Homo sapiens: one gene and its partners. The protein of the gene in region 1 purifies or fractionates together with the protein of each later gene. This does not show direct contact. Each region holds a gene or a part of one and is shown in the gene's direction. Other genes may lie near its edges. The genes, in order: NUDT9, LMF1 and PACC1.

Evidence for each region.
Region 2: the proteins of NUDT9 (region 1) and LMF1 purify together in Homo sapiens (affinity purification with mass spectrometry; one large-scale study listed by BioGRID and IntAct). This does not show direct contact.
Region 3: the proteins of NUDT9 (region 1) and PACC1 purify together in Homo sapiens (co-immunoprecipitation; one large-scale study listed by IntAct). This does not show direct contact.

Annotation. Positions count from the first base shown.
Region 1 is NC_000004.12:87,456,610-87,459,955, forward strand, and holds the end of NUDT9 (ADP-ribose pyrophosphatase, mitochondrial isoform a precursor), read left to right. Parts: intron 1-1,233; coding exon 1,234-1,412; 3' UTR 1,413-2,846; downstream 2,847-3,346.
Region 2 is NC_000016.10:853,074-856,078, reverse strand, and holds the end of LMF1 (lipase maturation factor 1), read left to right. Parts: intron 1-814; exon of another isoform or gene 815-972; intron 973-1,372; coding exon 1,373-1,547; coding exon of another isoform or gene 1,548-1,564; 3' UTR 1,565-2,445; downstream 2,446-3,005. UniProt on the Homo sapiens protein: Involved in the maturation of specific proteins in the endoplasmic reticulum. Required for maturation and transport of active lipoprotein lipase (LPL) through the secretory pathway. Each LMF1 molecule chaperones 50 or more molecules of LPL.
Region 3 is NC_000001.11:212,376,816-212,380,469, reverse strand, and holds part of PACC1 (proton-activated chloride channel), read left to right. Parts: intron 1-432; coding exon 433-575; intron 576-2,763; coding exon 2,764-2,908; intron 2,909-3,585; exon of another isoform or gene 3,586-3,654. UniProt on the Homo sapiens protein: Chloride channel gated by pH that facilitates the entry of chloride ions into cells upon exposure to extracellular acidic pH. Involved in acidosis-induced cell death by mediating chloride influx and subsequent cell swelling.

The DNA of each region.
Region 1 (3,346 bases):
TTCAAGCTAGTCCAAAGGTCAGCTTTCAGCAGTTAGTTACCCTTTAAGTGTTCCTACCAGGTGCTGACTCCAGCGGTAGGCTTCTCTCCCTGGTCAGTTGTGATTCTCTGTATTTGCCTGTCTCTCCAGTTTTTGGTATGGCAGTGTGGTCTCTACTAAGAATACAAAAAAATTAGCTGGGCGTGGTGGCAGATGCCTGTAATCCCAGGTACTCGGGGGGCTGAGGCAGGAGAATCGCTTGTACTCAGGACGCGGAGGTTGCAGTGAGCCGTGATTGTGCCACTGCACTTCAGCCTGGTCAACAACAGCGAGACTCCATCTAAAAATAAATAAAATAAAATAAAATATTTAAGTAATGTTGCCTTGAATACTTTAATAGGCTTGTCTCTATTTCATCAGAATAAATTCTTCAAAGAGGAATTACTGGATTGCTTATTGTATCTTCAGTGCCTAGTACAGTCTGGCACACAAGATGCACTCTGATATTTACAGAATGAGTGCTTGTCAAAGAAAACTTACTTTTTAAAAGCTCTTGATAAACATTGCCAAATTTCCTACAGAAATATTCCATTTATATTCCCAGCAGTGATTGGGAGCACTTATTTTTTATTTTTTTGATAATTTAAATTTTTTTTTTTTTTTTTTGAGGTGGAGTCTCACCCTGTTGCCAGGCTGGAGTGCAGTGGTGTGATCTTGGCTCACTGCAACCTCCACCTCATGGATTCAGACAATTCTCTTGCCTCAGCCTCCCAAGTAAGCTGGGACTGCAGGCATGTGCCACCACTCCTGGCTAATTTTTGTATTTTTAGTAGAGATGGGGTTTCACCATGTTGGCCAGGCTGGTCTCGAACTCCTGACCTCAGGTGATCTACCCGCCTCAGCTTTGTTTATTTTTTTACATTTAAATCTCTCATCCCTCTTGGACTGATTTTGATGTAAGGTTTCATATTCATGTAATATAATCTCGTTTTTAAGGATAATCTTTTTAGAGAAAACTCTTTGTGTTTATCTAAAATTTAGGGACTTGGTTAAAATTTGGACATTTTGGAATACTCTAGTTTTTTTTCTTTTATTCATTCTGCTGACCAGGGATGGAATGGTCTAGTTTTTAATTCACTTGGCCGGCTAGTACAATGATGATATAAGATTATTTTAAATAAGAATACTTGACGACATAGATATGCTAAAACAGAAATGAGTTTTTCTTGGTGATGGTTTTTCTTTGGCAACCAGGTGAGATAATGGATAATCTTATGCTAGAAGCTGGAGATGATGCTGGAAAAGTGAAATGGGTGGACATCAATGATAAACTGAAGCTTTATGCCAGTCACTCTCAATTCATCAAACTTGTGGCTGAGAAACGAGATGCACACTGGAGCGAGGACTCTGAAGCTGACTGCCATGCGTTGTAGCTGATGGTCTCCGTGTAAGCCAAAGGCCCACAGAGGAGCATATACTGAAAAGAAGGCAGTATCACAGAATTTATACTATAAAAAGGGCAGGGTAGGCCACTTGGCCTATTTACTTTCAAAACAATTTGCATTTAGAGTGTTTCGCATCAGAATAACATGAGTAAGATGAACTGGAACACAAAATTTTCAGCTCTTTGGTCAAAAGGAATATAAGTAATCATATTTTGTATGTATTCGATTTAAGCATGGCTTAAATTAAATTTAAACAACTAATGCTCTTTGAAGAATCATAATCAGAATAAAGATAAATTCTTGATCAGCTATAACTTCTGTTTCATCTAGTTCTTGTTTGTCAATGCCTTCCCTCCCGCTCCCCATCTTCTGAGGCCTGAAGGATGTTCCTGCCACATCAAACTCCTTTAGGCAGAGTACCGCCACTGGATGTATAGTTTAATGTTTCATCTGATTTTTCTTTAAATTATTTCCTTCACATTTTGCTTCACATGATCTTGTTGAAGCTAATTTTGAAAATGGAAACTATGTTTTCTTGACTTTAGAAGCATTAGTTTTAAGAGGAAATTTCAGCCACTAGTCAATAGAGATCAAAATCAGTGAACAAGAGCTGATACTCTCATTTTCAAAAATTCTGAATTAAAAAAAGTCCAGGAAGTTAGTAATTTAAATCAGTATGTTCATTTCACTCTAGTGAAACTACTATATGTTGTAAATTAGTTAAAAATGGATGTTCAGAAAAGAATTGAAATCAGGACAAAAAATTACAGATGCTAGTGAGGTTGTAGAGAAAAAGGAATGCTTATACGCTGTTAGTGGGAGTGTAAATTGGTCCAACCATTGTGGAAGAGAGTGTAGAGAGTCCTCAAATATTTAAAGATATTTGACCCAGTAATCCCATTACTAGGTATATACCCGAAGGAATATAAATTGTTCTATTATAAACACATACTCACGTGTATGTTCATTGCTGCACTATTCACAATAGCGAAGACATGAAATCAACCTAAATGTTCATCAGTGATAGACTGGATAAAGACAATGTGGTATATGTACACCATGGAATACTATGCAGCCGTAAAAAAGAATAAGATCATGTCCTCTGAAAAGACATGGGTGGAGCTGGAGGCCATTATCCTTAGCAAACTAATGCAAGAACAGAAAACCAAACACTGCATGTTCTCTTATAAGTGAGAGCTAAATGGTGAGAACACATGGACATGGGAACAACACATTCTGGGGTCTATTGGAGGGTGGGAGGAGGGAGAGGATCAGGAAAAATAACTAATGAGTACTAGGCTTAATACCTTGGTGATGAAATTATCTGTACAACAAACCCTCATGACACAAGTTTACCTATGTAACAAACCTGCACATGTACCCCTGTACTTAACAACAAAATAAACACAAAGGAAAATGTTAGCCATGTGTGAATTTTAAACTTCTTGGTAGTCACATTAAAAATAAAAAGAAACAAGTAAAATGGTTTGTAATTATTTAATCCATTATATCCAAAATATCTTAATATGTGATCAATATATAATTATTAAGTAATTATTTTGGTTCTATAAAAACAGGAACAGAGGTGGAGGTCTCTGTGAGTTAGTGTTTTTTTGTTAGGAAAGAAATGTTAAAGATTGAAATAGATTTTTGAGAAAAGCATGGTTAATGTTATAAATCCCAGAGGAAAGGAGGGGGTTGGTGCTTTGGGGGTTTTTGGAAGCAAGGAAAAGGAAAGAAAAGTAGTACTGCCTTGTCTTAGTGGACATGTTTATCTCATTCTGGCTAAGGATCTCTGTTGGAAAGCCCTGTGATAGGAACTCCTATCCACCTAAGTAGGGTTGGGCTATAGCTGGAGCATCTCAGGAAAAGCTTTAGGGGAGACAGACATTATTGTTTTCTTTCCTTCAGATGTTTGAAAA
Region 2 (3,005 bases), on another chromosome or scaffold:
TGCTGATCCCTCTCTCCCATCAGGCGCCTCAGGGACCCTCCTCCACCCAGAGGGTCTCTGTCTTCCCGGTTTTCCTGGCGTAATTCAGACTTGGGGAGAGAAGAATCATCATCCATCACACACCCAGACCCAAAGAGACTCAAAGCCAGGAGGAGCCGGGTGGACCCAGAGGCCCTCACCCTGCCAGCCTAAGGGGCATGGCCCAAGGTCTCCACCCCCAGCCCCCAGAGCACAGCTGTGTGCAGGTCACCAGAAGCCCCAAATAATGACAGCAGCCCAGACAGTCGCTACCGGGCCCTGGTGCAGTGTGAAGCCTCTGGCACCTGCCTGGGCTCATTCCAGGGGCCATGAGAGGGTCCTGTTATGGCTGCACCATCACACCCACCGGGCAGCTGGGGCCCAGCTCTGCCATGGATCCCAGCCAGGCAGCAGCCGCCCTGTGGGCTGAGAAGCTTCCGCTCCTGCTGCACAACTGCGAAGGGGCCTGGAGGGCCGGGAGCTTGTGACGGTGACAATTCCTCCTGGCGCCTCCTCCTCCGGGGCAGCCGAGCAACCCTGGACATGAGGGGGCTTCGTCCCACCCCCAGGAGAAAATGCCCAGTCCTCCGAGAGTCCAGTGAGGGCTTGCCAGCCAGGGACCAAGACCCAGTATGGCCTAAACCAGGCCTGGTCACCAGGGGTCAGGCGGGACCTTATACAGGGCTCAGCAGAGAGACCTGCCCGCTACCCTGCTCCAGGGGAGATGGGGGTGGGGGCCTTCATCCCACTCGGGCATGACAGAGGAGAGCAGCCAGCCAGCATCTGCACGTCTCAGGCAGGGAAGGGCCTGAAGCCCTGGGAAGCAGAGGCTCCGCCCTCAGGAAACAGGTCCCGGCCTGGCTCCCTCACAGCCTCGGACTGCCCCGTGGACCGAAACCCCCAGGCACCTTGCGCCAGGACTGGCCTGATGGTGGAGACGCCACACCATGAGCAGTAGGTTCCTCTCCCCACCTTCCCAGGCGGGGGACACTTGGGGCTCAAACTGGGGCCTTGTGAACGGTCTCAGGCTTGCTCAGTGCCACCCGTGAAGCTCCTGGCCTTCCCCGGGCCGGTCCCTCTGCCAAGTGGGCCCTGCTGGGTCTCCCCTCCCGGAGCTGCCCCCCGTCCGCCCTTCCCCCTTGCTGCGCTGTTCACTGCTGAGGGTGCCGACTGGAACAGTTGCCCTGCCCGGGGTCTGCTGGGGGTCTACCTGTGCTCAGGGTGGGGGCTCCTCATGCAGCCCCTCTGTCCGTGGGGGACCCTGTGAGCAGCTGCAGCTCAGCAGCAGGCTGAGGAGCCGGGTCGGGGGCCGGGAGTCCCAGCAGGCCCTGGGCTGACATGTGCCCCCTTGCAGGTGGGTCCGAGGAGAGCACTACAGGTACAAGTTCAGCCGTCCTGGGGGCAGGCACGCCGCCGAGGGCAAGTGGTGGGTGCGGAAGAGGATCGGAGCCTACTTCCCTCCGCTCAGCCTGGAGGAGCTGAGGCCCTACTTCAGGGACCGTGGGTGGCCTCTGCCCGGGCCCCTCTAGACGTGCACCAGAAATAAAGGCGAAGACCCAGCCCCTCGGCGGCTCAGCAACGTTTGCCCTTCCCTGCGCCCAGCCCAAGCTGGGCATCGCCAAGAGAGACGTGGAGAGGAGAGCGGTGGGACCCAGCCCCCAGCACGGGGGTCCAGGGTGGGGTCTGTTGTCACATACTGTGGCGGCTCCCAGGCCCTGCCCACCTGGGGCCCCACATCCAGGCCAACCCTTGTCCCAGGCGCCAGGGGCTCTGATCTCCCATCCATCCCACCCTCCTCCCAGAGGCCCAGCCTGGGGCTGTGCCGCCCACAGGAGTTGAGACAATGGCCATCCTGACACCTTCCTCCACTACAGCCCTGACCATAGACCCAGCCAGGTAGCTCTTGGGGTCTCTAGCGTCCCAGGGCCTGGTTTCTGTTCCCTCTTCAATGGTGTGTTCCCAGCCAGGTCCTGACCCTCAGAGCCAAGTCCCTGTCACGTCTGGGGCAGCCAAACCCTCGCCCCACAGGGACCTGGACACGCCCGGCCAGGATGTGGGGTTGGATGGGCCATTTTCTGTCCTATCCCTCATCTCCACCCCCGCCACAGCCTACACGCATCCCACACATGCAGGCACACACAGCCTGTGCACACATGTGTTCTTGGCCCGGTTTCATCCCCCCATGACTGGTGTCTGTGAGGTGCAGATGGACACAGCGCACACCCAGACCCTCCACCAGGCTGTGACCTCGCTGCCTCTGAGGCCTTGACAAGGCCCCTCAATCGGAGGACAGCCGGCCGTGCACACTTTCATCATCGTCGGACAAACAGCGTCTACTGCACATTTTTCTTATTCCTATTCTTGAGCCATAGCTATGGCATATTCTTCTACTATTCCTATTATACCACTTACCAGCTTACTCGAAAACACACTGTTTAAATGAAGAAGTTCTTGTACCTCCCTCCCCTTGGCGGTGGCCGTGCCCCCAGCCCACACTCTGATGCTGGGGCAGCGGGTGACCGAGCGGGAGCTTGATGGAGAGGTGAATGGGTGGTGCTTTGCCTGGCGACCCTTCCAGTGTCTGCTGCGGCAATACTTGGAGTAAATGGGAATGAGCAGGGGTGCCAGCCCTGCCGGAAGGAGGCAAAGCTCTGGGGCAACGTCCCCCACCCAGGACGCTGTGAGGCTGGGTCCTGGGAGAAGTCAGAAGTGGGCCCCACCATAGGACAGAGGCCCTCCCCTCTCCCCCAGCCTGGGGGGGCGGTTCCCCCACCCACCCCTTCCCCCTGCCTCCATCCACGGCACCTGGAGCCATGATGCCCACGGCTGAGCCACTGTGGGGGGCCCCAGTGGGGACAACACGGTGGTTCAGGCCGAGGAGGGCGGCTGCGGTAGGCACAGTGTGGGTCTGTGTGGAGCCCCCCCTCGGCCTGCCCGGGGGGGACAGCCAGCCCAGGTGCCAACAGAGGGCCCGTGTTCCAGCTCCC
Region 3 (3,654 bases), on another chromosome or scaffold:
TCCTCAGCAAGCAAAACCCAAAGCCGTAAAGAAAAGGATTTAAGGTTTTACTACGTTAAATTTAAAGTTTCCATAGGACAAATGACATTGGAAACAAAGTTAAAAGAAAAATGACAGACTGGAAGAAAAGATTGGCACACATAACAGATGAAAGTGATCATCCTTGCTAAATTAAGAGCTTCCATAACTCAAAGAACCAATGAGAAAAGTGGACAGAGGATGAGCTGCATTCAGCTCTGGTTGGGCATCATATGGGGAAAACTCCCCAGGAATGAGCATGAGTCCCAGCCCAGTCCTGTTGTTGGCTAGTGGTCCCTTTGGAGACCACTGGGCAAGGAGCTATGGGCTTTCCAGTCAGTACTTCTGCCCTCAGACCCAGAGGCCTCTGTGTACTCTCCCAGGACTGAGACTCTGTCCTTTTTCTCTCTGCAGAAATCTGCCCTGATTGTCCAGGGGCCCCGGGAAGTGAAAAAGCGGGAGCTGGTCTTCCTCCAGTTCCGCCTGAACAAGAGTAGTGAGGACTTCAGCGCCATTGATTACCTCCTCTTCTCTTCTTTCCAGGAGTTCCTGCAAAGGTGGGCTTTTAGAGTTCACAGTGGGCTTACTGTCTACTTTTTATCTTATTCCAGCTGTGTATGTCCCAAGGCTAGAGACGGAGGGGTGAGGGCAGGGAAGGGAAGGGGCATTCTCAGATGACCCACTGGCCCAGGAAGGGACCTCATGAGCTTGGCCGGTCCACTCAACATCTTATCACAAAGTTAAGCAAATCTGGTGTGGAGGAGCATGCTGGCTCTCCATGCACATAGTGCTGGCTGGTTCTAGAGAGATCATTTGGTCTCACCATTGCCTGGGGCTGCTGAGGAGTAGGGGAAGTTGCCTTTGATTTGTAAGTCCCTTTGAGAGCAAGTTCTTGTGTGGTTCCTTGGTTTCCCCCACAGTGTGCACAGGAACCACATCTTGCCCTTAGTGCGGGCTTAATGTATGTTTGCCTGAAATACAGTTGGTCCTTGAACAACTTGGGGTTTGGGGTTACCAAACTTAACCACTCCTGCCTATGCAGCCAAAAATTTGTGTATAACTTTTGACCCCCAAAACTACTAACAGCCTACTGTTGACAGAAGCCTTACCAATAACATAAACAACACATATTGCGTGGTTATATATATCATAGACTGTATTCTTACGATAAAGTAAACTAGAGAAAAAAAATGTTATTAAGAAAATCATGGCCAGGTGTGGTGGCTCACACCTGTAATCCTACCACTTTGGGAGGCCAAGGTGGGCGGATCACGAGGTCAGGAGATCGAGACCATCCTGGCTAACATGGTGAAACCCCATCTCTACTAAAAATACAAAAAATTAGCCAGGCGTGGTAGCGGGCACCTGTAGTCCCAGCTACTCAAGAGGTTGAGGCAGGAGAACCGATTGAACCCAGGAGGCAGAGTTTGCAGTGAGCTGAGATTGCGCCACTGCACTCCAGCCTGGGCAACAGAGCGAGACTCCAAAAAAAAAAAAAAGGAAATCATAAGGAAGAGAAAATATACTTACTATTCATTCAGTGGAAGTGATCATTGTAAAGGCCTTCATCCTCATCGCCTTCATGTTGAGTAGGCTGAGGAGGAGGTTTGGTCTTGCTGTCTCAGGAGTGGCAGAGGCAAAAGAAAATCCGCACGTGAGTGGACCCAGCCAGTTCAAACCTGTGTTGTTCAAGGGTCTACTGCATCTCTGGTATGAGGATATAAGCTCTGCCACCTCTCTTAGTCTTCGATTTACAGTGATGAATGTCCCCTGACCATCAGAAAGTTCTTGTCTGCTCCACACACACTGCTTTGGGGTCACACCGTGGAGCCTAGAGGGCAGGAGAATTTTCTTCATGTGCCTGAGTTGAGAGGGACTCAGTTCCTACCAGGTCCTGCTGAGCCCAGAGGCTCCATTCAGAGCAAGCAGGGAGGCAGCTACAGGGGCAGGGAGGCTGCTCCCCAGCTGGACATGCAGCGAGCTGCCTCCATTCCACACCACCACTGCTTTGTTCTTCCACCCCAGAGCTCGGAGCCTCTGCCTTAGCATTTTCCACCCTTTCTGCCACCTAGAATTCCCTCTCCCTTCCCTGCTTCAAGCTGGCCATCTTGCCTTCCTCCTGGAAGACTTTCCCCGGGATCCCACCCCCACTCCACGCTCCTTTCGTGAGCTTCCTCGGTATGCTGCTGCAGTTTTTACTTGTTTTTATGTTCGCTTTGATTTTGCTGCATCTGCACCGTCTTGGGGCTGATGCTGTAGGTGACCCATCTGGCTGAGACCTCCCCAAGGAACCCTCTTCCCCTCTTTGGGCCTTCCATGGGAGCTGACAGGCTGGTGAGGGCTTCCTCAGGCTCTGCTGAAGTCCAGAGTTCTCTGAGGAGCTGTGAGCGCCATGTTCTGGGGAGCTTCTGCCAACTTCATTGCCGACAGCTTTGGTAGCCATCGATAGGAATGATGGGAGGAGGGAGGAAGATTTCTCCCACTGGGAGCTTCAAGGATCATGTTCCTGCCTTGAGGCCAGTGACTACCCCTCCATTTGGAAACCAAATGGAGAGAAAAGAGGGATGGGCCTTGCTTTTGCTGGTGACTGACAGCCCTGTTGAGGCAATCACAATTTGGAGAGGAGGCAGGGAGTGGGCAGCATCCTGGTTGTGCCAGCAAAGAAACCAGCTTGCAGTGGGGGCTTCGACTCCTGCTGCCAGACCTGCATTGACCTGGATCTTCCTTCTCCTTCCTTCCTCCAAGCCCAAACAGGGTAGGCTTCATGCAGGCCTGTGAGAGTGCCTATTCCAGCTGGAAGTTCTCTGGGGGCTTCCGCACCTGGGTCAAGATGTCACTGGTAAAGACCAAGGAGGAGGATGGGCGGGAAGCAGTGGAGTTCCGGCAGGAGGTAGGTGGCTCTGGGTTTGCTTGAAACTGCTGGTGACTTTTCCACATTCGAGTCTGAGGTGGAGGGAAGCTTTGCAGAGAAGGCTCCTTTGAGCAGGGCCTTAAGGGTGAGTAGGCCTTGGTCAGGATGAGAAGGGACTCCCATGGAGGGCTTCATATGCTATGCCAGGGAGTCTGTGTGTGCTTCTGCAGGCAGCGCACATACCGGCCAGTCCTCACGGAATGCATGTGTGGGGCAGAGATCATTGTGGCTTGCAGAGAGGTCAGTAACTCGCCCAGCTGTGTCTGATGTCTTGCATCTAGCAGCACTTTGAGGGGCTGGCAGTGGCCTAGCAGATTGATTATTTGCAGGGAAGAGAGACTAGACACAGTGGTCCCAAGTGTGCATGTTGATCCTTTTCCTAAGGTCCTCTTCAGCTCTCACAGGTGTCACAGCGAGAGATGCCAGGTGTATCTCCTGGCTGCTAGGCCAGTGGGCTGAAAGCTTTTTGATCAGATTTCCCATTAGTAAAAACTTTTTGATCATATACTCCATATACATATAACTCTGCAGGTGATATAACATACTATTATTGTCTTAGTGTTATATACACTTTAAACATTCAAAAATAGAAATGTTAAAAGGATGAGATAAAAATAAATAGTAAAAAAAGCTAGTCTTTTCTTCTTGTATCCCAGTGGCTCGGGATGCTCATCTGGAGCAGAAGGACACACTCCAGTCAACTAGGCCATCACTGGCCAGAAGTT